Linked DNA regions of Homo sapiens: all the other regions are linked to region 1. Evidence: fine-mapped expression QTL. A gene starts in region 1. Each other region holds a variant in brackets. All regions are shown on one strand. Distances are between the middles of the regions.

Evidence for each region. PIP is the estimated chance that this variant, and not a neighbour inherited with it, causes the effect.
Region 2: its variant is fine-mapped to the expression of IL7R in fibroblasts (GTEx, PIP 0.92).
Region 3: its variant is fine-mapped to the expression of IL7R in testis (GTEx, PIP 0.95).
Region 4: its variant is fine-mapped to the expression of IL7R in fibroblasts (GTEx, PIP 0.98).

What each region holds. Positions count from the first base shown.
Region 1 is chr5:35,851,286-35,858,925 of GRCh38, forward strand. It overlaps IL7R (interleukin 7 receptor), which reads left to right and starts at 5,606. Exons shown (of 8, transcript NM_002185.5): 1 at 5,606-5,774. The coding sequence starts at 5,693.
Region 2 is chr5:35,917,392-35,925,031 of GRCh38, forward strand. It overlaps CAPSL (calcyphosine like), which reads right to left. Exons shown (of 5, transcript NM_001042625.2): 2 at 3,593-3,729. The coding sequence starts at 3,729. Among named protein-coding and RNA genes, the nearest start is that of CAPSL, 17 kb to the right of the region's middle. RefSeq lists a silencer at 7,536-7,640. The variant T/C (reference allele first, on the strand shown) is at 2,765.
Region 3 is chr5:35,718,407-35,726,046 of GRCh38, forward strand. All of the region lies in intron 20 of SPEF2 (sperm flagellar 2), which reads left to right. Among named protein-coding and RNA genes, the nearest start is that of SPEF2, 100 kb to the left of the region's middle. The variant A/T (reference allele first, on the strand shown) is at 4,352.
Region 4 is chr5:35,897,209-35,904,848 of GRCh38, forward strand. CAPSL (calcyphosine like) reads right to left here. Exons shown (of 5, transcript NM_001042625.2): 5 at 7,080-7,438. The coding sequence ends at 7,337. Among named protein-coding and RNA genes, the nearest start is that of CAPSL, 38 kb to the right of the region's middle. RefSeq lists an enhancer at 7,387-7,486. The variant C/CT (reference allele first, on the strand shown) is at 3,756.

The sequences.
Region 1 (7,640 bases):
GATAATCCACTAATTGAGAGAGCAATAAATTTGCATCCTTGCTAGAGCCGCTATGTTTGTGGGTCTCCCTGTTTTGGCAGCATAGCTCAACTAACACATATAACAAAAAAAAAATCCTTTATTAAATTCCAAAGTTTCCTAAGACCGATGATAAAGTGAAAGCAAAAGTTGGCAGTACATTACCATTTTCTTGGAAAGCCTCTGGAAAGAATGATTGTATCTTAATCACTTAGCCCAGGGGTATGCAGTGTGACCAAAGACAGAGCCCTTGTTCCTGCTTTTTTAGGAACACCTGCTGATTCTCTGTGACAATTCCATGAGCAGTATAACTGAGGGTCGCTTTTAAGGTTGACTTTACTTTTTTTTTTCTTGAGACAGGGTCTCACTCCGTCACCCAGGCTGGAGTGCAGTGGTGCCATCTCTGCTCACTGCAGCCTCAACCTCCCAGGCTCAGGTGATCCTCCCACCTCAGCCTCCTGAGTAGCTTACAGGTGCACACCATCACACCTGATTAATTTTTTGTATTTTTGGTAGAGACAGGGTTTCACCATATTGCCCAGGCTGGGACTTTGCATATTAAGCTTGGGAAATTTTAGGCTAGCAGAGTTGTTCTTGGGGACTCCATTTGCACAGAGGACTGGGTTCTAAGAGAGCAGAGGAAGCTTCAGAGTAGAATTGAGGACTCTTGCCAGTTCTCCCAGTGGTCCAGATTTGGAAACGACCTGCAGGGTGTGGCCACCAACTGTGGTCCCTCAGGAACCACTCTGCAGGAATGGAGCTTACCCTGAGGCAAGTACTGTGTGCAGGGGCACGGGCCAGAACCCAGAATGGGGTTGCTTGATCCAGACTTTTCTCAGAAACACACTGGGGCACTGTGTCCGACAGTGGAGTGGGCAGCCGGAGCTGCTGTGAACTGTTTGTCCGCTGGGAAGGCCAGAGAGGGAGACACTGAGCTGCAGGGACACCACACTGGCTCCCGCTGCCCAAAGGGGCACTGTGACTCAGCCTTTGCCAGAAGGCATACCACTCTCACCACTCTTCCCAGGGTCAGCCCTCTTGTTCACTGTTTTATCAAAATGTGGGCATGTACTGAAATTGAAATACCACTCACTTTCTGGCAGAAATGTCGTCAGCAAAGAGTGAAATGTTGGTACTCAAAGTTTCCATTTTTATTGCATCCAGAGACAGAGGCTAAAATCTCATAAAGGTGAAAATAGTATGACATTTCAAACTCTGCCCAGAAAGAAGACAAATGGCAGCAAGACATGAGGCTGAAGACGTGGGGGAAGGAGGAAAGGGAAATGAAAGAAGAGCCACAACAAGGAAAATGTCATGCTCCTGGAAATGAAACTTCAAGATGCTGGGACTCCCCCTCAGAATCGTAGGGACTGACTCAGCACATGTTTATCAAATGCTAGAGACTATTCATTTAGGACCAGAGTGGCATTAGCTTTCCTACAGCCATCCTCACCTGCTTGACACCCTTGGATGTTGGGTTTTTTTGTTTGTTTGTTTGTTTGTTTGTTGTTTTTTTTTTCCACAGCTCTTGTGGTCCCCAGCCTCTCTCTTGAGCAGGGCTGGCTTTTTTTTTTTAATAAGATAGCTGGTGCCCAAGATTGTTTTCCACCTTAAGGATAAAACCTGTTAAGAAAGGTAAGTTGACAGTAGGTGGGGGCAGGTCATACAGATTTTATGACACATAGAATGTGTTTTCAGTATTTTTCAAACATCAGATTTTACCCAGGATATTACTGTTGCAACATTTACTGCCTGTTATTATTGCTGTTTCACTTATTGTCCTTCAATATATAGTCCCAAGGTGAGTGACTTTTAAATCATCCTCATTTAGGACAAATTGCTAAAGGCTTAAGGACTATTTTATAAGCTTCATCTAAAAACTGAGTCAGAGGAATGCTTTTGTCCTTGAAACAGTTTGTTTCCCAGGGTTCTCATGATACACTGGTATCTGTCCAACTAAATTCATAATTTCTGTAGAGAATAGAGTCAAAATTTCTGTTCCTAATAGATGGATCCAGATAGTAAACACTAGTAATAAGACAAGATGCTCAGCCTGAATTTTCCCAGGAAAACCTTTGTCTTTACTAATCAGAAAAAAAAAAAAAAAAGGAAGATCTGGGCTAGATTTTTATCCAGTTAACAAACAACAAACAACCAAATAATGGATACACCCCTCTAACATTTTAGGATCTCAATCTCGTTAAAAGATAAGTTCTCTTAACTTGCTAGGACTCTACCGGTTATATAGGAACACCACAGAACTTATTGCAATCTGAAGATAAAAGAAAGTCTTTTTTGTGTTTTGCCTGTTGGGCAAATAGCCTGAACAATTACAAAAAAGGAAGAAAAGGAGACTTGGCCAACTGGTGTCAGGAGTCTTAACAAGGTCAGTGTGTTCTGCTTGTGTATGAGAAAGAATCAAATGGCTTTTTTTTTTTTTTTTTTTTTTTTTGAGGCAGACTGTCACTCTGTCACCCAGGCTACAGTGGAGTGGTGCAATCTCAGTTCACTGCGCAATCTCGGTTCACTGCAGCCCTGAGTAGCCAAGACTACAGGCGGGCCCCACCACACCTGACTAAGTTTTCTATTTTCTGCAGAGACAGAGTCTCACTATGTTTACTAGGGCTGGTCTTGAACTCCTGAGCTCAAGTGATCTGCCCACCTCAGCTTCCCAAGGTGTTGGGATTACAGGCATGAGCCACTGCACCCAGCTGGCTTTCCTTTTTAATGATTCACTACATCATACAAACTCATCAAACTGAAGGAAGACAAAGTACAAAAGAGAGACGAGAAAATGTAGCCATGAAAGGAAGTGATGGGTGAAGAGGAGGAGAAGAAATATGGCCAAGTCAGTTGCCACGCCAAACTGCTTGCTTCTACCACAGTCCAATGCTTCCCTCCTGATTTCACATTTGGAGACTTGAGTGTCCCCAAATAGTGTTCCTCATCCTCTTTTCTTCTTTCTGTGCTTGTCTCACAAAAGTAATGACAAAGTAATATAGTAAATGTTTGTTACCTGGGGGATAGGGTGAACTAGGTGGTTCTTCCTCAGCTTTTCTAAGTCTCCAAAGGACTAACAAGACCTGAGTGAGGAAAGAGAGAAGGCACTGTTGTTCCCCCACAATCTCTAGAAGGACTGGTGACGCATGTCATTTTTCTTTGAGCTCCCCACACTTTAGGCTTCTCTCTGAGGTCTTTTCAGCATCTCCTGCCCCACCCAAGAGTAAGCACCCCTGTGGAAATCCCCAGAACAAACCAGCACATGCTGTACCAAAATATTGTGTCTTGGCTTTGTTCTTTTACATCTTCACAACTAAAGGAAAGAGATACAATCAAAATGATAGTCCACTTAAATGATAAACAAGAGAATTTAAAGAGACATAACCCAGTTACTCACCCATGAAGTGACAATCTGTTAGCAGTTTAGGAGATTTGCATTGGTAGATAGATATAATTTGGGATTTCTCCTTGAACATTAGCTTAATTCATGGGAATCTGTAATTATAGCTTTCTTGAAAGGGTATTTAGCTCAGTGTACAAAACATACCAATTTTTGTGAATCAGGCTTACAATTTTCTAACCAAGCTTTCAAAACAAGATTAGAAATGAGGGCATAAATTATTATCGATGCACAAAATTGTCACTCTTTATTTGGCTTGGAAGGGTTTTGAAATGCCCAGAGAAGGCCCTGACAAATGGAGAAGATGGAATATGTCCCCTTCAGTTGGATTCTTGCTCCGAAGTATTCCTTGAGCCTATACTCCAAAGTGTGGCATTATAACTGGTGCAGACGGAGTCTGTCTTAAAACTGAAAAGGAGGATCCAGAGACTGGTACAAATGTCCCACCTCCTTTTTTTGTTACTTCGTTATTGTCAAATAATTGTAATGATGGGACAAGCTAAATCATGAGTCTTTTAAAGTCTCTTCGATTTGCTTTACACCTGGGGGGTTGTTGCTTGTCTCTGCTAATTTTAGCCATTTCACAGGCCCATGGGAGCAATTCTACCTAATGACAGTGAATCCAACAGAAGTTCATAACTCACTGATCACTTAGTTTCTCTGCACTCCTCACCTTATAACTGCAGTCTTGTGGCATTTTTCCAAAAGAGAGCCACTGTGAATCAAGCATAGAGTTTTATGGCCTGAATCCAGGTTAGATTATTTTTTTCAAGAAAAAGAAAAAAAAATCTAACAGTTACCAAGAAGCAGTCAGGCTTTACAAATATCACCACTTTAACCATGAGGCCATATTAGGAAGGCTTTTGACTGGCATTCAGGTTTGGGGGAGTCTGAATTTTCTATGCCATGGTCTCAGATTTCTGCCCCATATACCTAGGCACTAATTTAGTTCATATGTACTATGTGTACCTGAAAAGTTGTGTGGCAATCAAATTTTCACAAATAGAATCCTGTTTTAAATACACTAAGAAAGTACCTACTTTATCCTTTAAACAAGAGGTCAGCAGACTTTTTCTACAAAGGGTCAGATAGTAAAGATTTTACACCTTTTGTACAATACAATCTCTATCTCATCTACTTAGCTCTGCCATTGTTGCATAAAAGCAGCTGTAGATGATACACAAATGGGTGAGGCTGTATTCCAATGAAACGTTATTTGCAAAAACAGGTGGTAGATTAAATTTGGTCCCAAGGCTTACTTGGGAAAAAAAAAGATCTTTTGAAAAAGAAAAAATAAATGAATAATTTTTTAAAAAATTGTTCCCTAGGTCATAGTTTGCCAGCCCCTGCCCTAAACAAATAATTCTTGAATGCCTACTGTGGTGTGTAAGATATGAGTAAATACCAGGGATACACAGAGAACAAAAGAGAAAAACTGCTATTCTTGTGAAACTTGGAAGTTGGAGGTAAGCTATTTAAAATAAACCCACAATAAAGTACTTCACATAGTGCAGACTGTTTCTTTAAATCAAAACTCACTCCAAACAACCAATTGATTCACTTTGTAAGTTTGAATTTTTGTCTTCAGATTCTTTTAAAGTGGGCCCTTAGTCAGGAGCGGTGGCTCATGCCTGTAGTCCTAGCACTTTGGGAGGCTGAGGCAGGCAGATCACTTGAGGTCAGGAGTTCGAGACAAGCCTGGCCAACATGGCGAAACCCCGTCTCCACTGAAAACACAAAAATTAGGCTGGCATAGTGGCATTTGCCTGTAGTCCTAGCTACTCAGGAGGCTGAGGCAGGAGAATTGCTTGAACCTGGGAGGTGGAAATTGCAGTGAGCCGAGATCATGCTATTGTACTCCAGCCTGGGCAACAAAGCAAGACTCTGTCTCAAAAAAATAAAAATTAAAAAAATAAAGTAGCCTCTAGCCTAAGATAGCTTGAGCCTAGGTGTGAATCTACTGCCTTACTCTGATGTAAGCACAGTAAGTGTGGGGGCTGCAGGGAATATCCAGGAGGAACAATAATTTCAGAGGCTCTGTCTCTTCATGTCCTTGACCTCTGCTTACAGCAGCAATACTTTTACTCAGACTTCCTGTTTCTGGAACTTGCCTTCTTTTTTGCTGTGTTTATACTTCCCTTGTCTGTGGTTAGATAAGTATAAAGCCCTAGATCTAAGCTTCTCTGTCTTCCTCCCTCCCTCCCTTCCTCTTACTCTCATTCATTTCATACACACTGGCTCACACATCTACTCTCTCTCTCTATCTCTCTCAGAATGACAATTCTAGGTACAACTTTTGGCATGGTTTTTTCTTTACTTCAAGTCGTTTCTGGAGAAAGTGGCTATGCTCAAAATGGTGAGTCATTTCTAAGTTTTCTTATGGATTTTGGATTATCTGTAGCATGGTTTCAGGTTATTCAGTTCCCTAACAGACCTGAGTCAGGCACTGGGTTTGAATGCAGTTTGAGAATTTCCCACATATTCAGTCATTTTTTTTAATGTTTAACCACCATGACAGGGGGCAGGGGATCAATACTATGGGTGGTTTATAAGACCTCAGTATTCTCAAGAAGGAATGCATTTCACTCCCAAGTGTAGATCTTAAATGTTGAATGATTACTCTGCTCTTACAAAAAGAATGCTCATGTAGATGCTATGACTGTACTTGTAGGAAAATGTCCAAAGTAATTTTACCTTGTCAGGAGATCAAACTGGATTCATTTTGTTTGACTTTTTAAGAAATCCTGAAAGCATAACTTTCAGGATAAGGTAATGTACAGAAGCAATAGCTTTGTCTTCAGTGACCAGTGCTATATCCTCAGCACCTAAATCAGTGGCTAGAATATAGTAGACATCCAATAACTTTTGAAAGTGTTTTCAAAATACTTTAGTTTTGAGAGATTTATGTGAGATTTTAAGTAAATAACTGACTAGAGAAAGATCTAAATGAGTTTACTCATTGAAATACACTGAATTGCCTCCACACCAACAAATTGGCCATATGTAATAATTCTTTTTGGGATCTAAAAAACTTAGTACCGAGAAGCCAACCCTGCCCATACATAAACACATTGTAATTATAACAAAACTAGGCAGAAGCTTCTAACAGCAGCAGGAGGCATGTGGGAATTTAGACCATCAACTTGCTCCTGCAAATTAAGCCCTTTCTCTTTAAGAGTTAAAAACTATTTGGCTATAGACAATATCAAACACATCAGCCTAATGACTCAGCTTATGCATTTTGAGTCATGTAATTACGAAGGATGGAAATCCCTAGAATTTTCTCATTAAGGGAATTGTCAGAGAGTTTGACATTTTTTACAGTATATGACTCACTTTATGGGGGATGATTATTATTCTATGCTAAACTTTGCCTTGGATTTCCACAAAGACTGATGGGAGGCAGGAAACATAAATCTTACTCTCTTTCATGTCATCTATACTCACTAGTTCACCCTGGTGATCATACTATTTTTAAAATATATAAGAATGCTAGTTGAAAGCTGGGTTTTCACTCCAACTTTTTAAGTTTCAGATTTTTTAGAAGATGTATAATTACCCTATTCACATGATTACGTCAAAATACTTCCCAGTTTGGGGTATAGGAATTCACATTCAGTTGCTGCTTGTTGAAAGTTGTCAATTTTCTGATCATCACAAGGATGATCAAGAGAAGAAAGGGATACTTTTTAAAAATCCAAATCATTTACACTATTAATCAACTAACTCCATTCAGTAGGAAGAAGACTTCTAGATGACACTGGCTTGCCTATGATACATATTCCACACAATTTAAATTTTTATGGATAAATATGTCTAGATACCTATTTAAATATGAATAATATTAATTATTGAGCATTTAAAGAATAATAGATTAACTCATTATTCAAAAGCTCTATGTAATTTCAAAACCATAGTAATTATAACACCGTCAATTGACATAAACTTTTTAAAGAGAAGCTCAAATGTTTCATGTATATTTTCAGAATTAGAATTCTTATTTTACCTTTTCATTACTTATTTCTCAGAAAATATTATACTCATAGCTAATCCCTATTAAATCCTTACTGTGTTCTAAGCTACCTCTTTGTAAATATCCATTCAGTGATTGCTCATAGCACGAGTTTACATATTAGAACACATGTCTTAGAGAAGTTGCCTACCTGACAGAGGACCACAGGTAGAGTATCCAGAATTTAAACGCACATCTGTCCAGCTCTAA
Region 2 (7,640 bases), 66 kb after region 1:
TGCTGCTCTAAAGACACATACACACGTATGTTTATTGTGGCACTATTCACAATAGCAAAGACTTGGAACCAACCCAAATGTCCAACAATGATAGACTGGATTAAGAAAATGTGGCACATATACACCATGGAATACTATGCAGCCATAAAAAATGATGAGTTCATGTCCTTTGTAGGGACATGGATGAAGCTGGAAACCATCATTCTCAGCAAACTATTGCAAGGACAAAAAACCAAACACCGCATGTTCGCACTCATAGGTGGGAATTGAACAATGAGAACACATGGACACAGGAAGGGGAACATCACACACCGGTGCCTGTTGTGGGGTGAAGGGAGGGGGAAGTGATAGCATTAGAAGATATACCTAATGCTAAATGACCAGTTAATGGGTGCAGCACACCAACATGGCACATGTATACATATGTAACAAACCTGCGCGTTGTGCACGTGTATCCTAAAACTTAAAGTATAATAATAATAAAATTTTAAAAAAAAGCTTATCGTCATTAGAGAAATGCAAATCATGTCAGTTAGAATGGTGATCATTAAAAAGTCAGGAAACAGCAGATGCTGGAGAGGATGTGGAGAAATAGGAATGCTTTTACCCTGTTGGTAGAAGTGTGAATTAGTTCAACCATTGTGAAAGACAGAGTGGCATTTCCTCAAGGATGGAGAACCACAAATACCATTTGACCCCACAATCCCATTACCGGATATATACCTAAAGGATTATAGATCTTTCTACTGTAAAGACACTTGCACACATATGTTTATTGCAGCTCTATTCACAACAACAAAAACTTGGAACCAACTCAAATGTCCATCAATGATAGACTGGATAAAGAAAATGTGGCACACATACACCATGGAATATCAGGCTGCCATAAAAAAAGGATGAGTTCATGTCCTTTGCAGGGATATGGGTGAAGCTGGAAACCATAATTCTTAGCAAAGTAACACAGGAACAGAAAACTAAACATCGCATGATCTCACTCGTAAGTGGGAGTTCAACAATGAGATTACGTGGACACAAGGAGGGGAACATCACACAGTGGAACATGAACTTCAGGGGGTGGAGGGCTAGGGGAGGGATAACATTAGGAGAAATACCTAATGTAGATGACAGGATGATGGGTGCAGCAAACCACCATGGCACATGTATACCTATGTAACAAACCTGCACGTTCTGCCCATGTATCCCAGCACTTAAAGAATAATTTTTTTAAAAGATGGAAAGTTGGAGTAATCAGAATCTAAAGACTTTTAAATGTCCTTAAATGCTAAAAATTTGAACTTTATTAGCAAGTCATTTTTAAAGTCATTAAATGGTTGACTTGAAGTGACATTATCAAAATAATGAGAACTTTACCCATAAGAGAGCTAACAGAACTCTAGCAATAATGGGTTGAATGAATTGGAGGACTGAAAACTTAGGAGCAAAGGAACCAGCAAGAATACTATCATAAGAGTCCAGTGAAAAAAATGTTGAGTGTCTACACTTGAGCAATTGGGATGAAAATAAGAAAAATAAAGATTTCAAGATATTATAGAAATAAAGGAGTCAATATGGTGGGCTAATGAAGATAATTCTAAAGTTTTCAACCCAAAGACCTGGAAGAGTAGTAATACTGTTAAAACCGTAGGGGCTGCAGAAGAAGCTCTATTTGGAAAACAAAAAACAAAAAAAATGACTTTTGTTTTGTTTGGATTGGATACTAAGTCAACTATATAGAGATATTCACTGGTTAGCTAGTATCTTTCCTGATTAAAAAAAAAAATATATATATATATATATATAAAAATTGTGAAATTAGTTTGGATCTCAGGAACGGATAGCATTCCAAGAACGTGGCAAGGGGCCAAGGTACAGATGTGCTAACTCAGGAGTAGCCAAGTTGTCTGATAAATTAAGGATACTAGCAAAAGAATCTTGAGAATTTAGATACTAGAGAAGTATCTACATTTACAAGGCAATTGGAAATGACTAAGAAAGAACGTATACTGTTGAAAACCACAAGAATTTCATGTCAAAAAATGAAGGTGCCAAGGTTATAAATAACAAAGTCATCTTGATCTTGGTCAGGATAAAGACTCAGGGTGGAAAGATGGTGCCGGGAGTCAATGCTTCACAGAATGCTAAATGTTGTGCAGGGGGGATGATGGCAGAGCCTAACCTGAAGAGATGCCCTTCTAAGACAGGATTTATGGGAAAGAAATAAATGAACAAAGGGGTGTGTATGACCTGGGATTTGGAGTTAGACTGAAGGAGAGTGTTCAGTCTTCAACTGACCCTAAGGTAGGAGTGGAGGAGAGGGGCAGCTTCCACTTGAGTTAGGAGTTACTTAGAGAAGGCCAAGGCCAGTAAGTGAGGCAGATGGCACATTCTGCAAAAGGCTTAGGATGGAACGGTGTCCATTGACTGTAGACTGGTTCCCAGTGGAAAGGCTGGTAGAGACGCAGTGTGCAGTGGGTATGGGGTGAAGATGGCACAGGTAGCAGGAGGGATTCCACTGAGTGAACCAGAGAGTGGAAGAGAGGATTCCTCAAGGGTTTGCACTAAGGACAATGATGTGGACCCATGATGAATGGGATAGAGGTGGAAGTGACACAATATTGAGGGCATGGGTGCTGGTCTTCCCATTGGACTGGGGCAGCCTGGCCACCAGGGTCCATATCCCCACTGCCTGGCCTTCTGACAGAGCTGGGCTTAGTCTGAGACTTGGGACTGTTCAGAGTTTTCTCCCAGGCACTCAGTACCTTGC[T/C]GGAAGTGAAGCCTTCCGCATCTTCTGGGTCCAAGGCTAGATTTCCCTCCCATTGGCACCCTGTACTTCTCTAATAAACAACTTCTCACACCACTGAGATGCCATTTAGATCACTCATATTGTCCATAGTCTTAGTCCTCCATGGGGGCTTAAGAAGCCTTGTTCACCCACGGGTCCCTGAGATGTGTCCAATGCCTGGCCCATGGCAGGCTCTTGATGGAGTTTCTTATAATGCACAGGACCTGCCCTCAGGAGGCTCACAATCTCCTTTCCCTTTTGGTTTCTCAGTCCTTAAAACTATTCACACTCAGAGGACAGAGGGTGGGAGAACAGGAGCTACCCAGCTGAGAGAACCCCATTGGCAGTGAGCTATCAGTTATCTGACAAGCAATACCAGTGTCCCTGGAAGTGATGGAGAAATGATTGCCCGAGAGCAAAATTCCAAATTCTGCAATTAGGGCTAACTGGCTGTTCCTTCCTCCCTCTTCCACCCTGGCCTTTATTATCACAGCTGCAGAGAGAGTCCCTCTCATTGTCCTGGTAGGCATCTCCATGCCAGGGCACATGCTGCTTCTCCCTTTACCTCATATTTTCCCAGAGCTGCACTGTCTTGTAGCAGATATGAGTCTTGCCGAATCTGGGACTAAGATCCAAAAACTGTCACAAGGGACCTCATAGATCAACTCTTCTAAACTCTACATTTTACAAATAAGGAACTGAGCCCCTAGGAGGAGATGACTTCCCCAAGACCACGTGGCCAACATTAGCCTCACCTGGCAGAGTCATTCCTTCCCGCTCCATTCCCTGCCACTTGTAGCTGGGTCCTACCTGCCAAGTCCTTTGATCCCAGCAGAGCCCCTGGCCAGGCACTGCAGTCGGAGTCTTTCAATGGGGTCGGTGGCCGTGGTGAGCTTTTTCTTGGCCTGGATCGCCATCTCTCGGTCATGGCGCGCTGTCCCTGCCATCTGAGGGGAAGCCATAGCATGTTAGCAAAGTCCAGGCCTCGCCGCTGCCTCTGGCTGGGCAGAGTGACAGAAGCCTCACTGAGAAGGAAATTTACAGCCTTCTCTGTCAGGAAACCTCTCAGAATTTCCAATTTTTCTCTATGCCAACTGTGTGCCTGGCATATTTATAACTTACTTATCTAGTCCTGAGGACATCTGGTTTCTCCAGCCTAGACAATAATCTTAAATATATCACCATTTCCCAAGATGTTTTGATCTTTCTGAAGCCCTCTTCCATCCATAAAAGAAGTGCAATTTCTCTATACTCTCTTTTTTGAACCAACATTATATACCATATTATTTTATGTAGAATTTTCCATATTCCCTTGACCCTCACATTTAATGTTCTCCTCTTTGGTCTAAACATTGATTTTGTTGCTTCTGTCTTGAATGAGATTTTCAGCACTTGATCCTTAATGATTCTTACCAGTAATGGGTATGGTCTCCTTGATTCACAGGTTAGTATCCACTAACACCTAATGAGGTTCTTAGGATGGGTGCAGTGAAGTGCTGTCTCCTGAGTGGTCCCCAAGGGACGTACAAACTCTTGTAGCCACACTTGAGCTCTCAAAGCTTGCACAACAGTGGGAAGAGCACTTAGCTGGGGGCCTGGAGACCTGGGTTATAGTCCTGACTCTTCAATCCCCACCCCTCAACTCCCCCAACCCCTCACCCCCATCTGCCTGGTAACCTGCCTGTGAGTGAATCTCACAGCCTGTTTCCTCCTCTTTTAACTGGGAGGATTGGATAAGATGGTCTTTAAATTCCATCCCAGCTTCAAAAAACACTAATTCTCATAAGTCCACATATTCAGTAAATGGGGGATTCTGGAAGTTACCTGTGAGTCGTGAATGAAAAGAATGAGAGGCAAGAGGCTCGAAGGATGTGCAAAGGACAGCATGCAATGTGCAGAAAAAAAAAAAAAAACGGTATTAGAATGTGGTTCCACCCTGGCTTCGAGGCTCCCTCCCCAGTCAAATTCTGGCACTTCCCCTAAGTGCTACATTAGGACTGAATTATTTTCATCAAAGACAGCAACCTGCAGATTCACAACCTCGTCTATGCCAAGAGTGTTGTTCTCCTATACACCCTGAAAGGTCTCCCATAGAGGGTACTCCTTATTTGACTTTTGGGAAAGGGAATCTCATCAAGCCAATAACTGAGGCCAGAATAGACAATTCAGGGATGCATACACTTAACGTGGCCACTTTCTTGCAGCCTCCACCGAGCCAAGGTACAGGATCCCTCTTTCTTGCCCTGTATTCAGATTCCCAGTATGTGGATGAAGGTGGGAGCAATTCCTTTCAGTTCTCTTGAACCTCGGGTCAAGAAGGAGACCTGTCTACGTCCCAGCTCTTTACTCCACATTAGGAAAAACTTGCTCTGTCTAAAGCTACACAGTCTTCCTCTGCTTCCACTGGCACCTAAGCAGAGGTTCCCTGGAACTCCAGACGGTGGCACACCCTGCGCTTAGAGACTTCCATCTCCGTTCTTGCCAGGCACACACAAGGAGCATGTTCCAATTCTCATCCAACAGGGACACCTGCAGCCAAGACTGTGCCCTTCCTGGCAGCTTTAGCTTTCTAATAACTGGCGTTTGCTTATTACTATTTTGTTACCTGACCTCAAGCTGACAATTCCCAGAGCTCGTTCCCAGCTTCAGCACTAACTGTCCCCTTATTAACAGCCAGAATCCTGAGTCACAGACAAGACCACCAATTCACTCATCTAGCCATGTCCTGCTGTCTTACTCATCCTTGCCTGAGCCATTCTCTTGCCCTGACCATATTCTGCTAGTGGCATGCGCCCCATCCCCACCCCAACCCCTATGGAAGCAGGAACTGGTGTCAACAACATGCCCTTCTCATTCTCTAAACCCACCTCAGAGTCTTGATCCTTCCCAGGACCACCATCATCTTTCCTGACCCTTGACCTTGCTTCATGATACTTGCCCAATGGCTGTCCCCAGCCACTCACCTCCCATTCTCATTTCCCATGACATCTCCCCTACCTTGTCCACCTTATTCATTTTGCTCTGGTTTTTCCCTGCCATCCATGACAGTAAGTGAGAATGAAGAGAAACAGAGACTAAAAACCAGTCATGGAGAGAAAGTGAGATCCAGCTCCTGGATCTGGGACAGATCCCCAGTGGGACCCTCTTTGCACACCTTCAGAATAATATTAAAGGCATCAGTGGTGCCCCCACTAGGTAGTAAGCATGTGTCCAGTTCCCACAAAAACCCCTTGAGTTGAACTGAAAACAGGAACTCAAACAAATGCACATATACCCATGTTTATAGCAGCATTATTCACAACAGCCAAAAGGTAGAAACAAACCAAATGTCCACCTATGGATAAAGGGATAAGCAAATTGTGGTATAGCCATACAGTGAAACATTCTTCAGCCATAAAAAGGAACACAGTACTGATAGATACCACAATGTGGACAAACCTTGGCCATGTTATGCTAAGTACAAGAAGCCAGACACAAAATGTCACACATTGTACGATTTCATTTATGTGAAATATTCAGAATAGGCAAATTCATAGAGACAGAAAGCAAATTAATGGTTGCAAGGGGCTGGGGTGGGAGGGCCAGTGGGGAGTGACTGCTTAATGAATGTAAAGTTTCCTTCAGGGGTAATAAAAATGTTTTGGAACTTGACATAGACGGTGGTTTATCAACATTGTGAATGTAATATACACTTTAAAATTGCTAATTTATGTTATGTGTATTCATCTCAATAAAATAAAACCCATGCACAGATGTTACTAGCTAGATTTAGTCATTCCACAATTATACATACTTCAAAACATCATGTTATACAAAGTAAATACATACAACTTTATCTGTCAATTTAAAAAAAAAATTTAAAGTGTGCTGGGCACGTAGTCATCCTGGTAAATTAGCAAAGGTTAAAAAAGAAAAACAAGCCTATGAGCTAGTTACTACTATTATTGGTATTTCACAGATAAAGAAATTAGGATGCAGAGAAATCAGGTAACTTGCCCAAGTCGCACGGAAACATGACTCACAGTAATCCACATGCTGTTAGAACTGTATGACCCTTGAAGATTCTCTAGTGCAACCTCATTTTGCAAACTTGGAAACTAAGGCTTGGGTTGGCAAAGTGACTTGCTCAAAAGTCCTGGCCAAGACCAAAACAGACGGCTTCTGATTCCTAAGGGCTCTTTCTGCTTCATCATGTTTGTGGTTTGTGAAATAACATATAAGAATCTCAAAGCACAGTTTGATGGTGCTTTCTCATAGGAAAGTGGGATCGAGTCCAGGAAGGCAAGAAACTGCCAGCCCAGTACCTCAGGCTGTCCCACCTCTTGAGGCTGACCCTACCCAGCGATGATGTTGGCAGTTTATTTCTGGAGTCTAATAAATTCAAGGGGAAAAAAGTCCATTCTCTCCTGCTAGCCTACCGTGAAACTTGAAATGCCCATAGTAAGCATCCCTTTTAATCATTGAATCACCCAGTTCACCAACCACTAGCTAACTGTATTGTGTACTCTTTTCGAGGCACTATGCTGGAATAGAGTGTGGGAGTGTGAGGAATTACTCAGAGGAGCAAGCCCTTGAATAGCCTAGAGTCTTCATTAGTTTGAATCCTGATCTCCTGTATTTAAGCAGAAGGGAAAAGTTTATTAAGCACCGGGGCTTTTAAGGAAGGCAGGATTGCACAGGATCTCAAGTGCATAAGGGAGATGCTCAGCTTTGAAGTTTCAATAAAGGCGCCAGGCACCAGGGCAAGAGTCAGTCCCCAAACATATGTCACCGACTTCATAGCAGTGCACAAAGTGTCTCTGCCTGTAGAAGACTCTGTCTGAACCTTAAAGATCCGGTGTGGTGACAACGGAGCGCA
Region 3 (7,640 bases), 130 kb before region 1:
GGGATACAGAGTGAAGATGAATGACCACCCATCTAGAAAGAGGGGAGCAGGCATCCCTGGTTCCCGTTTCTTCCTAGCAAATAACCAGGGTACATGAAGGAGAGGGAAGTGTGTCTACTTTCCCTCTTCCATACTTGCATCTGAGCGATTTTGGCAGGTCCCACCATGAGTGCCAAAGCACCTTGCACCCATGAAGCAGGGAGGGCCTAGAGAATAGGAATTATCTCCTCTTACCCATGTATGCCTTATCTCCCCTGCTGTCAGTAGCCTTGGAGTTTCCTAGATATCATTTATGTCATGGACACTAACGTGACCTTTATCCATGAAACAGGAAGCTTGGGGTTGGCTTAATCGGCAGGAATCAGCCACTCTCAGTTTTGCTGTGCCTTTTAACCTCTGTTGTCATTTGCCCCTGAATCCCCTAGATCCAATTTTCCTGCCTAGGGCTTTGACCCAAAGCTTGGAATTGAGTTTGGGACAAAAATGTGTCTCAGGGAGTTACATGGACTCCTTATCATAAGCTGAATTTTAAGGTGAGAGGAGAGGAAAGAATGTCTTGTGACACACCCAGATAACTGGTAGCTATAGTTATGCTTACTAAGATTTGGGTGCATGATGCTTGGCTTTGGTTAGCTGCCTTGGTCTTACTTTCCCAAAAAGGAAACCTCCGAGTCATGGGCATCCTATTTATTCCCATCACCTCAGAGGATTTGCAGGATAATTGCTTAGAACTAGAATATCGATCCAGATTTTTACATTACTCATCCCTTTTGTTCTTTTTGACCTGGAGCCAGAAATTGCTGGTTGGTTCACAGAAGCAAGCAGGGTTAGTCTAAAATATAGGGGAAAACTTAAAAACAACTAATGACTTGAGAATTTAACGACAAATGTGTAAGTTTTGAAACATGATTTCTCTCTCTCCCATCTTCATTTTTGTTAAAAAATCATCACAGGACTGAATGGTTTGCAAAATAGATTTTAGTCTTATACTTGGCCTGATTATTTGCATAAAGTGCAGCAAGAATAATTATTTCTGTGTAGGCCTTTTGGATTGGTTTTGATGGAAGTCTGTTCCACAAGGAATCTCAGATAAGACCTTTTAAAGCCAAGCCCAACCATGGGTTTGTATCCTCAAATACCTGTGAGGTGGGTGGCCCTCTTCTCTTATGGTCCCAAGATAAAGTTGGAGCTCCTGAACCTGTTAGAAAGTGGCATTAGTGACTTTTTTTTTTTGAGATGGAGTCTAGCTCTGTCACCTAGGTTGGGGTGCAGTAGCGTGATCTTGGCTCACTGCAAGCTCCACCTCCCAGGCTCAAGCGATTCTCCTGCCTCAGCCTCCCGAGTAGCTGGGATTATAAGCACATGCCACCACACCCAGCTAATTTTTGTATTTTTAATAGAGACAGGGTTTCACTGTGTTGGCCAGGCTGGTCTGGAACCACTGACCTCATGGTCCACCCATCTCGGCTTCCCAAAGTGCTGGGATTACAAGTGTGAGCCACTGCACCCAGCCAGAGAGTGACATTCTTTACTGACCACAGGTCAGGAACCCTGTACAAGGACTGCGTAGACGAAGGTATGAGCCTTTTATTGGCTCTGCAAGTAGAGATTTACTCCTTAAAGGGAAGCATACCCTTCCAGTCAAAGCCTAGGTAAAATAACCACTTTCTCCAATTGTGTCCTGTTGCAAAAGAAAAATGGATTTTTATTGCACTAATGCAAACAACTATATTTCCATAAGAATACTCATAGATAGGTTCTAAATTCTGGAGGAACCAGGCAGAGAGAAACAAACATGCTCCAAATTTTGATCATAGGAGTATACCTTGCTTACTCCTTAATTATTAAAGGCCATAAATAGTCAAAATAAGTTTCCTTGACTCTGAAAAACAAAATAAGGATCAGCAATATTCCAAGCAAAGTCAAAAAGTTTGCTTCAGCTTTCTGAGTTCAGTCCATTTAGTTCTTGCTTCACTTGATATTTATGAACATTTCAGCTATTCATGAGTCCTGTATGTTTTTTTATTCCAGTGTCACAATCTCCAAAGTTATCAGAAACCTGTGTTTGAGAGCATCTGTTAAAATTCTATAGCTCATTATAAACTATCTTTGAAAAGGATTAAAACAAGACAACAATTGTCTGTGGATAGCAAAATGTCCAGGGTAGTTACAGTTAGAAACATGATTGACAAAGAAGTTTGGTTTTCTCCACGGTTTTCAATAACTTAACATAACAACCTTAATTATGATTGATAGCATATACTTAGACATTAGAATTTTAGAAATTTTATACAGTTTTGGAACATATATTAGCATTATTCATCAAGATATAACCTAAAGAAGATTGAGCATCATTTTGGCAATCCCACGTACCTAAACCTGTCAAACAATCCTGTTTACCTCTCTTTTCTGGACACTTCAGGGGCCCTCTGAAGTATTCAAAAAGCCAGGTGCCAGTGAAGATAATTTTGATACTGAAGTTTGATTTTGGGAAGCCTTTTAAATATGTTTAAAGCACTTGATATTATTGAATAGAATTCCAGATTACCATAAACTATTTATTTTGCCAAAATGATGACTCAGAAATTTTAAAGAAGCAAAAACCTTTTATATCCCTTTACAAATTTTGCCAAAGAGCAGATTAGTGCCTTAGGAAAACCTTGTTATGCTTTTATTTCAGTGTTCAATTTACAGGAAAACCATATAATACCCTTTTTGGAATTTAGTTAATATGTTCACACAGAGAACCTTTTCTGCAAGATTAATTTCCACAATTATTCTACCACTTCTTTGAACCTTCAGCTTTTTCCTAATTTCACTCAATACAATCCTATAACCCTAGGCAAAGGTTTACATTTCCATGCCTTCTTATAACTGTTTACTAAAACACACATTTTACTGTTCTTACACATCTTGCATGTAAATCTATTTCTAGTAGTTTCAGTTAACTCCTATCAATTTTAACTTTAAGGTAAAGCTTGGTGAGTTGCTTTAATTGTGGGCTAAGTGTAGCCAAGGTTTGCCTTCTTAATTAAGGGTGTGGTTAGTTCCATATGTGCCCAGACCTTACCAATTGTGAAGCCGCATGTCAAATAGTTCTCAAAACCCAAAAAGCAGTCTGTAACCTTAAAACACTTAGCAAACCTTGCATCTGACCTGGATTTTACCAATAGTCTTTAGGGCTGTTTTTACTTCTTAAAGATTAAAGTCACGTGAAGTGAAAGGTACCACAGCTTTTAACTTGCCTTAAAAAAAGTATTTGATCCAAGTGCTTGTCTTTCTTTAGGCCGAATTAGTTAGAGATCTTTTCACAGACATCACACACAGTACATACATAGACAGGCAGAAGAAAATCCAGTTGCTGGGTGGGGTCCTTTAAGAGACAGAGTTAGGAAAACATGCAGACATTGAACCAGAGAGGGCTCATCCCCTAACACAGTATTGCTAAACAAAGCCTTGCCAAGTGGTTATGCCCCTAGGATGTAAAGCAAGATGGAGGCTTGCAGCACAAACCATACGGACATGAAAAGCACACAAGATTGGCCACAGCCCAAGACTAGCCCCACAAATCCTTTTTCAGAATTAAAGCTTTACAGAAAATATGAACAGTATTAGTTGAGGGCCTGGCCTAGTAAAGGGGGGTAAAAACTTTAAAGGTTAACTGCTGACAGGGTGGAGAAGAGGAAAGAAAAAAAAAAACAGTTTAAAAATGTCTGGGAAAGAACCTCTTACTCTTATGCAAGTTGTTCCTCCACCAGGGAGATGTGTTCAATTACTGTCCAATGGAGTAAAACCCTTTGGCTGGGGAAGGGGAAGGCTGTGGTGGCTTGTGGCTGGGAACCAGCCATCCAGCTGGTCAGGACCCTGGGACCATGCGTCCCAGCCCTGGCATGGGGCAGGGAGCATCGGGGAGCTGATGCTCACCCATCTATCCAGTAGAAAAAACGAAAAGGCCATGAAAAGACATGGGATTCATGGGGGTTGGGGACTTGGTTTCCCCCACCCTCAGAAGTCCAAGGATGAAAAGTCTTAGAAGCAACAGTGAGAGGTTTTTTTTTGTTTTTTTTTTCAAGGTTTTTTTTCTTTTATTATTATACTTTAAGTTTTAGGGTACATGTGCACATTATGCAGGTTAGTTACATATGTATACATGTGCCATGCTGGTGCGCTGCACCCACTAAACTCGTCGTCTAGCATTAGGTATATCTCCCAATGCTATCCCTCCCCCCTCCCCCCACCCCACAACAGTCCCCAGAGTGTGACGTTCCCCTTCCTGTGTCCACGTGATCTCATTGTTCAATTCCCACCTATGAGTGAGAATATGCGGTGTTTGGTTTTTTGTTCTTGCGAT[A/T]GTTTACTGAGAATGATGATTTCCAATTTCATCCATGTCCCTACAAAGGACATGAACTCATCATTTTTTATGGCTGCATAGTATTCCATGGTTTTGAGTCCCCATTTCACTCACTGCTTCTCAAGTCCCATGTTGGGTGCCAAAAATGTTGCAAGACTTTTCCTTAGTTCAGCTAAAATGGGGTTCTTGTCTGCCCACAGCCATCAAAATTTAGGCTCACAGATGGTTTAAAGGGTGAGTAAAGCAGGGTTTTATTGGGTTAAAACGGAAAAAAGAGGGAAACAGGAACTCTTGCAAGGCCAGGCAGTTTGAATCCCAGGTTCCACACAGGAAAAAGAGGGGCCAGGCTCCTCCCCACACAAATGGCATGAACTTCCCAAGGCTTCACCCCAGTGAGCAGGCTGGTCCAGGGACCCCCTCCCACCTGGCTGTCTCATTAATGCCATTTAATTTGAAGGATCTGGAAGAACAGAGGAAAAAAGACAAAAGTGAAAGGAAATTGAAATAACTAGATCATCTATGAGAGCAGAGGCTCTTCAAGTATGGTTTTGGGACCAGCAGCATCTGCATCTGCATCACCTGGAAACTTGTTAGAAATATAGATACTCAGCCCCACCCGAGACCTACTAAATCTGAAATTCCAGGAGTGGGGACCAGCAGTTTTGTGTTTTAACGAGCCCACTAGAGGATCCTGATGATCACTAACATTTGAGAACTACTTTACTGGAGCCCAAGGCTGACTGCTCTATTGTAGCCACTGGAAAATCAGAAACATTCAATGATTTCTGGTGTATTATTTATAATATACCTCTTCCTCCAAATATTTAAGTTAAATTACAATAAAAAACATGTTTATAATAATGCTGTTGAAATAGAAATAAAAATCCAAAGCCCTGAAATGAGGAAATTAGCACATTCAGCTCAAAGACACAATGCTTATTGTGATGACTCCTTAATCAGAACAACCTGACAAGGTGATGGAGGAAGTATGATGGGTTTAAATTTTAACAGGATTAATTTCTAAAATAGATTTTTATCACCTGAGACCTTTAACAGAGGACAGTATGTGGCACAATATGCAAGGTCGTCATAGATTTATAGCAAATGCAAAATACATTGGGTTTCATTGGAAGGTTGATGCCACACATACAAAAGCTGGCAATTAATTTATGATTGATCACGGTTCTGGTAGCGAAATTCAACCATAGTCTTCTTTTATAATACAATTTATAAGCATAATAACAAACTACCTCTTATAAAGTACCTTTTATGTACCAGGCACTACACAAGATGATTTACATATATAATCTCATTAAGTTCTCACAATCATCTATGAAGTAGAAATTATCATTTTACCATGTCAAAGATGAGGAAATTGAGAGTCAAAATGAATAAAGAAGTGTTTTGTTAAGAACTGTTAACCTATGAGAAGAAAACAAAAAGCCTCTTCACTCTTTGGAGAATATTATCTACCCTCCCACATTAATTTGCACACTAAATTGCTCATAACTTCCCTGACTTTTGCCTCAATAATGTTACAATTGTTTAAATAAATTAAATAAATAATATTTCTGCTCTTAAGTACGAGTCTCTTAATGAATCTGTTTATCAGACTGAAGTTTAAAAAATTTTACCAGAAATTTTCCAAAAAGAAAATTGGTATGCAATATAAATAAAAATAATCTTAAAATCAATGAGCCAAGTAAATAGTAGTATAAGAACTTCTCTGAGTTTGCAAACTTCTAAGTATGAATCAAAAGAACATTTATCAATATGAACTACATCAATAGACACTAAAAGGCAATGAAGTATGACAATCAAAAGCATGGAGTCTACAGCCAGCCCGCCTAGACTGAAATTCTAGCTCTGCCATTTACCATATATGGGTTACCTCTGGCAAGTTACTGTACCTTAATATGCCTCAATTTCCTCATCTGTGAAATGGAGTAATAGGAGTATCTACTCATGTGGCTATTATAAAGAATAAGTACATGTGCAAAAAAGTAAATAGTACAGGGTCTGGCTCAGAATAAACTGTAAATAAATATGGAGTATTATTATTGGCCCCAGACCAAGTTACTAAAGACAGAGGGCAGAAAGGGGAATCCTTTGCAAAGCTGACCTGGAGAGTTCCCTCTTGTTATTGATTATAAAGGTGCTAAAATTAGGTTTTATAAGCAACCCCAGATAACCAGTCTCATTACTTTGTAGTTGTCCACATTCTGTATCTCCAGCTCTACGCAGAGTAACAGCATAAATTTTAGGACAGTAAGCAGAGAAAGCTTTCCCTCCATGAGCTTTTTCAGAATAGTTTTTCAACCGTGAGTTCTGAGAACACATGTTCAGTCTCTGGCTCCTTGCCTAACACCGGACCTCTTCTCTTCCTGGTCATGTTGCTTCAGTCTGGTCCATTTCTGAGCTAAAATTTTCATCTTATTTAAGACACTCTAAATCTCCACTTTGATTGCCATTGTTGGCAGCCCAGGCAGCCATTAGCACTGTTAACAAAAAGTTGTTCTTTGCTGAACATGGTTGACCCCCAAGGCAATAAGAAAGCTATCACTGTTAACTGATCTGGTTTCTATCTAGTGAAGCTGTTAATTAATTTAAGTCCTAGAGGATATATTTTGCAACAGAAAGGTAAAAATAATGCCTTTCTTAAAAGAAAACAACAACAACAACAACAACAAACACATAAAGCAGACTTTCCCTATCTTTTCCTCCCTCCTACAATTCTAACCTCCCAATCCTTTCACCTCCCTGAGGAAGGCCAATTTAATTTGAAAGTGTCTGGTTTTCCTAATGTCCTCTCATCAATTGATCCTCTTATCTTAGAATTAACTGTTTACTTTCTTAGTTGTAAATTTTGGTTCCAGCTCTTGACTTTTAATTACTCAGACCTTCACTGAGTTCCTATTATTATCTCTTTGCTCAAATCTACTGCTGTGTCACTTTGTCTTTGATTATTTCTTTATTTATACATTGATTTTTAAAATCCAGTGTTCTAAAACTGAATTTCTCTTTTTACTGCATTTTATTTTTATTTATACTCATTGCAGTGCCATGGGTTTCTGTGTGATACTATCAGGTTCTTACAACAAAAAAAATTGGTAATATGTACCTTCACCATATGCTAATCCATAGATTATTTTCCAAACTTTTCATCCATGAGCATGAGGAATAGTTACACTGAGGACTCAATGATCCAACTCTACAAGTGAAAGCAAACATCTTATTAGAAAATGAAGCCTTCATATGGTTGCATGGATGGTACTTAAAAAGTAATGCA
Region 4 (7,640 bases), 46 kb after region 1:
ACCAGCCCTATAGGAGGTACTAGAAGGCCAACTCTACCCACTTCTCAATTTGGCCAGGATACGTGTTAATATTTTAAGGTTGGACTTGTGCTTCCTATACTAGGCAATGAAGTTAAGACCAAAGATGCAAAGAGTAGGAATCAGCCTCTAAATTCCATCTCTCTCTCCTCCCTCTTAACCTCCCCAATTCCTTAATACCAGCATATACAGTCATACTATTCCCCACAGATCTAGAAGCACCACTCAAAAGCTGGGCATTCTGGAAACTTGCTTGGCCTGCTAGATGGAAGTAGTTCATCCCTGCAAGAAAGTAATATTAACATCAAATGTTGGAACTTTCATTCTTGGCTGTCAAAATAATAGTTTTATGAGTAATTATGTTTTGCTCTTTTAAGAACATGAGCGAGTACAATGTGAACAGGGCCTCATAATTTTCAAAGAAGAAACGTTATCACCTGTAACTGAAATACCACACAAATAACATTTTTAAATGATCCAAAAGCACCGTCAAGGAAGTATACTTTTAAAGAAGCATGATATGTTACATGCTTGCTAACAAGAATAAATATCTTTTGGAAACACTTTAAAACTGAAATAGCTAGATGTGTTTTTGTTTTGTTTTATTTTGTTTTTGGTTTTTGTTTTGTTTTGTTTTGTTTTGAGACGGAGTTTCGCTCTTCTTGCCTAGGCTGAAGTGCAATGGCGCAATCTCGGCTCACTGCAATCTGCGCCTCCTGGGTTCAAGCGATTCTCCTGCCTCTCAGCCTCCCAAGTAGCTGGGATTACACGTGTGCACCAACACTTCCAGCTAATTTTGTATTTTTAGTAGAGACGGAGTTTCACCATGTTTGTCAGGCTGGTCTTGAACTCCTGACCTCAAGTGATCCACCCACCTCAGCCTCCCAAAGTGGTGGGATTGCAGGCATGAGCCACTGCACACAGCCAGATGTCCTCTTTTGTTACAATAGTTGCTAATGCTTCAAACCTTAAATTAAATTAGAACCAAGTTAATGGCAAAGTGCTGTCTGATAATTTTAAAAAATGACAAAGCTGGTATTATAAATTAAATAATATCTAACTTTGTAACTCAAGAACCTTTCAATATTTCGTCCCTAGAAATGATATTCCAGCTCTTGCTATTAAGCCAAGTTCTTGCTTTCAGTGCATGTATAGCTTACCACTAGAAACACCTATAGCTTTTCAAATAAAATATTTAAAAATTTATGTCATGAATATCATGAAAATGTTTCCTTATAACGCAGAATGTTGTTTTCAGCTTCAATGTATATTCAATTTCTATTTTAAAATATTATCAAGATAGGATTTACATAATAGAAACACTTCACTATCTAGAAAACAGCTTGAGCTATAGTTGTCCAATAAATCATTGCCAATTAACAATTAACCTAGGACTATTTTAAAAGGTATGCGAAAACATTTTATGACTAGCATACTAATTATATTTATACACAAATAGCTCCAAGTACCTGTAAGATATATATGAATATATTGCAAATATATTTATATGAATGTGTATATGTTTTACAGGTACTTGGCCTATGTAGGCACAGCCCTTATAATCTTTGCATTGCTGACTTCCTTAACAACCTCCATCCTCTCTTTTTTCTGGTACAGATAAAATACAAGTAAACTTCCACTCAAACCCTGTCTAAATGATCTCAATTAGTAGAGCCTGAATTCGTGGTGATTTGCTATACACACTTAGCCACTTCAATAATAATCTTAAGTAAATGGATTTTGAGTAATATTGCTAAATGAGATTTTAAGCATGACTAAGTATGACATTTGTGGAAGGGGCTTTATTTCCCAGTTCCCTTGGAAACAAAAGGAGTGAGCTGGGTTTAGTAAGGTAATGGCTAACATTTGATAATAACCTGCGATTGTGTAGCACTTTATCCCATCAACAGGAAGCACTCTGAGACTCACTATAACTCTGGAAGGAGCAAGTCACTCCGCCATTTGTCATTTTCTCTCAATTCCGGGTCCTCATCCTGTTCTAAGGCTCTCTCGGGTTGCGGATTGTCATCAGTTCCACATGTCGCCTAAGCATTTCCAGGAGTTCAGCAACTCAAACCTTTCAAGTTTAAGATCAAGATGTTCCCAAGTCAATAGCAGGCTCTGAATGCCAAGTATTCAGGTCAGAAAAGAAAAAGTGATCCAAGTCTTTGAGCACAGGATAATAAACTACTATATACTCAGTTCTTGCTTCAAATTTAAAGTGCTTGAGCTCTGAGTCACAAGGTCCCTGGTACATTTATTACAGGGTCTGGAGCAGAATGAAATTGGAAATGAGTGACTGTTATATGGTGGCATAATGTAAAGCTGGATGTGATCCTTGGAGTGTTTGAGCTAAGTATCACACTTCTAGTGCTGGGAGATGGAGCTGGAAGCCCATGGTGCTCACAGGGACTTCGGTGAAACTCACATGGCATCAACAATGTTCAATGGCTGCTAGGATTTTTGAAATACCCCAGAGAAACAATAAATAAATTCCATTAGGAAGAATCAAAAGAAAATCTAATACAAAAGAAAAAAAAAGGCCATTACGTGTTGAGATTTTTTTCCCTGATGAACTCTACCTTTCTGGTCATTGCAAGGTCCATATTAAAACCTTGTCTACTGGTTGGTTGCTTATATTTTCAGTGGGCTTCACTCCTGAGGAGGTTCTTCCACTATACTTTGCTCAGGGGAAAAGATATGGCTTTGGCGAGGCAGGTGTGAGAATTAAACAAGAAGGTCATGCTGTTCTCAGAGAGGAAGAGCTGTTTCACCACAGCCTGTCACCACACCAGCTGAAATGGCAAAAAGAATTCTTCTCACACAGCGATGTTCTCAGAACCCCCATCAATCATTTGTTTATGTTTCTTTCAACATATCTCACCCATCACCTGTTTTAGAACATATAATTTTAGGGGTTAACTAGGTGGGTTTTATTTTTTCGGAATAAAAGAACTAGCTATCTCTATCAAAGTTACATAGTTTTCATTTAAGTGACTTGGAGGAGTAAAATCATGCTGAGAAACATTGGCTTTCAAAAGGATCAGTTACACGAAACTCAATAACATTAAATGACAATCTGTCAGACTTCTGATGCTTTTGTTTTTCCTTTGAGTCATAAGCATTTCTAGGATTTAAAACTTTACCGCTTCATTCAATAGGATCTTAATTTAAAAGAACAATCAATAATCTCCAGGAAAGCAAGTCTGTTGACCAGTTTGGGAATTGGAAAATATGAGGTTCTTCATTTCTGTACTCAAAATAGATATGCATGGTCGGGAGTGGTGGCTCAAGCCTATAATCCCAGCACTGTGGGAGGCCGAGGTGGGCAAATCACCTGAGGTGAGGGATTCGAGACTAGCCTGGCCAACGTGGTAAAACCCCATCTCTCCTAAAAATACAAAAAATTAGCTGGGTATAGTGACAGGTGACTGTAATCCCAGTTACTCGGAGGCTGAGACAGGAGAATCATTTGAACCTGGGAGATGGAGATTGCAGTGAGCCGAGATGGCACCACTGCACTCCAGCCTGGGTGACACAGCGAGACTCCATATCAAAAACATAATAAATAAAAACAATAACAAAACAGATATGCATAAATCCAAAAAAGGTATACTACTCAGAGAAGGTTAATAGAATTTCATGAAGCAGAGGTAGAAGGGCCCCCACACACCATCTGTGAATACATCTGGTAAATTCTATCTCTCCACTTGATTAAACTTCAACATAGACTGCAT[C/CT]TGCAGGTAGTTTAGTGAGAATGGAAGTGTTACCTACTTGTACTCTCATGGCTCAGTGAGACAATCAACTTTGGCCAAGAAAATTAAAGAGCCAACACAATTATCTGCCTCCAAATACAGAGAGGGATTTTCCTTGCATTGTCTTGATAGGCTGTCTATGTCCATGAAATTGACTACGTCACTCCCCGACACAGTGCCACAGAAAGGGCTCCAACTGTCCTGACTTCAGAGGCTGAATGAGATTCTGGGAGGGGAATTTGGGTGCCTGTTCTTTCCCTCCCTCTCTACCCTCTTTGATCTCTTAACAACTGTGGGTTGTTAGTTTGGTTTGAAAGCCAATGGTTTTGCTTGCAATTATTCTAGTTCACTGCTCTGTCCCCATGGCCTAGAAAAAAAGCATGTATCTCAATAAATATTTATTGATGGGATGTATTTACACCTGCAAGCCATGATGTATGCCAAGTCAATCTGCAGCTACTTGGAGAACACCCAGCTCTGCCTTTGAAAAGCTTGATTACGGTATGAAATGTGACTCCATGCCTGCTGTCAAACCATACAGAACAAGTACATGGTCCTCCAAAGTGCCATCTGTGCCTGGGAAGATCCTATCACAGTTTAAATCACTGTGAAAACCAGCCCCACAGACCAGCAGAAAGAATTCTGCCTCAGTCTACAGTTTAGTTTGCATAGCTTCCACATTCTGGGTTTCTCATTTGCACTGTGAATAGAATCCAAGTATGATGTGCACAGCAGCAGAGAGTCAGAGTCTCTGGCCATTCTTGCATGGGTTTGCCTTTGATCAAGTTAGAAATCCAAATTCAGTATTGTTATGGGTGGTTTGTTCTGACAAACTCTCATTCTCAGAATGTTTGCATACATCATTCTTGTTTCATAAAAAGTTGCTAATTTCATTCTCTTTTCTTTGGCTTGTTTAATTTTCTATCTGAGGACCAGACCCAACAGGTGAGGTTTTCCTGAGGGATGTTTTGGCAACTTTTTATTGTGTTTTGCCTTCTGAACTAAGGGCTTATTTTTTAAATTGTAAACGGAGTAAGCTTTAAAATCTGTAAGTTAAATAAACAAAAAATATATCCAGAAGAGTGTTAGCAAATGATTTCTTTAAATGTCTCTTCTCTTTTCCTCCCACTCCTACTAGAAGGAGTAGAGCTAAATAATGCATAATTCGTGACTGTGCCAGAAGCCATAAAGGAGAATGAGAATTGGAGTGCAGTGACCCTTGACCATTAGGTTATTAGCAGATTTTGTTTCCAGAGGGTGAAAGGGCCTTGGTGGAACCTTGCTCATGGGCCCAGAACCCAAACCGCTAGAAGAGAAGCAACTAAATGTGACCAAATACACTATGAAGTATGGGTTATCTGAAATTGGATAGCTGTGCCCTGTGCCCCCATTTGACAGGAAGCAAAGTATCACTGGAGAAGACTAAGCTGATAGCTGCAACCTGGTCCTTGCTCAGAATCACATGCTCACTCTATAGCCTCAGTTAAGCTGAGGCATGAGTCATACCCAGAATCAAAGACAAGAATCTTTCTAGAGCAAAAGCCTTGAAACCCATCATCCCCAGGAAATAGGGGACCTCTCCTTAGCCACAGTCTACAAGGCACAGGCTGCAAAAATATATGGATTTTTTTCTATACATTTCTTCACAATTTCTTCTGGTTTTCTACATAAGTCTACATATTTCTTCATAACACTTGGTATCTTTGGCCTAACCAACCTCTATATGAGCAGAGATAATAAATCCAATACAAAATCAAACTTGTGCAATTGTGCAATTAAGTAAAAAAACAAAAACAAAAACAAAACTAGTTTCTGGTAATACGGGGATACACCATCCTCAAGAAAAAGTTGAGCATCTCAACAAGTTACTTAATAACTACTATAATGCCTATGTAGCAGCACTGGTTTTCACATGTTTTAAATTAATACATATCCGAATCTCAACTTCCAAGCGTATGAAATAAAACCTAAACAGTGAATTGATACAAAATATGGCAAGTGTGTTCAATCCCTAAATCCAGAGCCAATTAAGTATATAAGATCTTAAAGAAGACTATTAACCCAATCCTGTCTGCAAACTGGGGGATGAGTGCAGCTAAGGACAGAGTCAAAAGGAGGTATTTCACCCAGCAGCAAGGTGGGTGGGCATTGTCTCCAGCACCATAACCAGAGGCTGGTCACTGTGCTTTTATCTCTGGCCCTAGATACAGAAGACACAGAAGGAGAGCTGTAGTTTTCTTATCTATTTTCCAGCCTCTGGGCTATCTTTGCTTCTAGTAGCCTTTCATGGGCAGAGTCCTACACATCAACGATATGAAGCCAAAGCTTAGTGCTGGGAGGAGGAGGTGTTAAGCCATGAAGCATCAAGATGGAAAACCTGCTTTGGAATATTATTGAAATCCTAGTCCGTGTCACACCCAACCTCCTTGTGCTGGTGGGAATTTTTGTTTGTTTGTTTGTTTGTTTGAGACAGAGTCTTGCTCTAGGCTGGAGTGCAGTGCAGTGGCATGATCTGAGCTCATTGCAGCCTCTGCCTCCCGGGTTCAAGCAATTCTCATGTCTCAGCCTCTGGAGTAGCTGAGATTACAGGCATGTGCCACCATGCCCAGCTAATTTTTTTATTTTTAGTAGAGACAGGGTTTTCACCATGTTGGACAGGCTGGCCTTGAACTCCTGACCTCAGGTGATCCACCCACCTCAGCCTCCCAAAGTACTGGGATTGCAGGCGTGAGCCACTGCACCCAGCCCTTGCTGGTGGGAATTTCAACACAATTGGCAGAAAGCAGAGAGGGGAGAGATAAACATTCCACCAGGTGAAGGCTTTCTGGAATAGCCTGCCCACACACAGCGCAAGATGTCCCAGATAAAATCTGAGCGCCCAGCCCAGTTTCAAAACTTCAGCCACAGGAGTACCATGAACAGGCGTGGATCTACTGCTCAAAGAAATAGCCTCCTCACTCACACCAGTCTTTAAAATGACTATTAAATAAATCATTTTGAATCTATTTGTCAAACTGCGGCTTCCCTAAACCCTAAGCAGTGAAACTCAAGATTTGCTTGTAGAAATTGAGGCTAACACGTGGTCTTCTTCTGGTCCCCAAATGAGACTGAAACACTTAAAGACTTACAATCAGTCATAAAAAGAGATATATTATCATCTCACCTAGAAAAGGATCATCTAAAAGGAGGTGAAGAAAAACTATGGGTGCATGGGTGAGGGTTTTAATTAAAATACTCAAGCTTTCATTAATGGCCAAGGGATAAAACCTAAAGTTGATTAGACACCTGCATGTATCAGCACAGCACTAGGAGCTTTACAGAGCTCATTTTATTTAAGTCCTATTTTAGAACAAAGGAAACAGTCTTAGGCAAGGCAAACTCACAGTTGGCTACTCAATGTCTTTTATTTCTGCCTGTTTTTTGGCCCCAGAAAATGCAATATTTTGACACAGAAAAAAACATTAGGATGAGTGTGAAATCAAATACGATTCTGGTTTTTGAGCTGACATTTAGTCATTTGGAGCCACATGGCTGTCCCAGGGCCTGGTCCCCAGGTCATGTGCTTAAAGCTTCCAGGCGGTTCTCATCATGATGATGAAGTACACATCAGTGTCAATGGATGCGCTCACACCTGCATAGTAGTTCATGAACTCCTCAGGGGTCACCTGCAGTGGAAAAGTTAGAAACAAAAACGAAACTTTGCTTCTCACTCTGTCAATGGGCGCCCACCTTGTGCACCTGTAAATAGAAGGGAAATAGAGGATTTCTTTGTGTATGTGATCATGGCTGAGGAACTGATCTAAAACAAAAGAACAAGTGAAGCTGAGGATGGTGTGAGAACAGCACCTAGGAAGAGAGAAAGAAAGT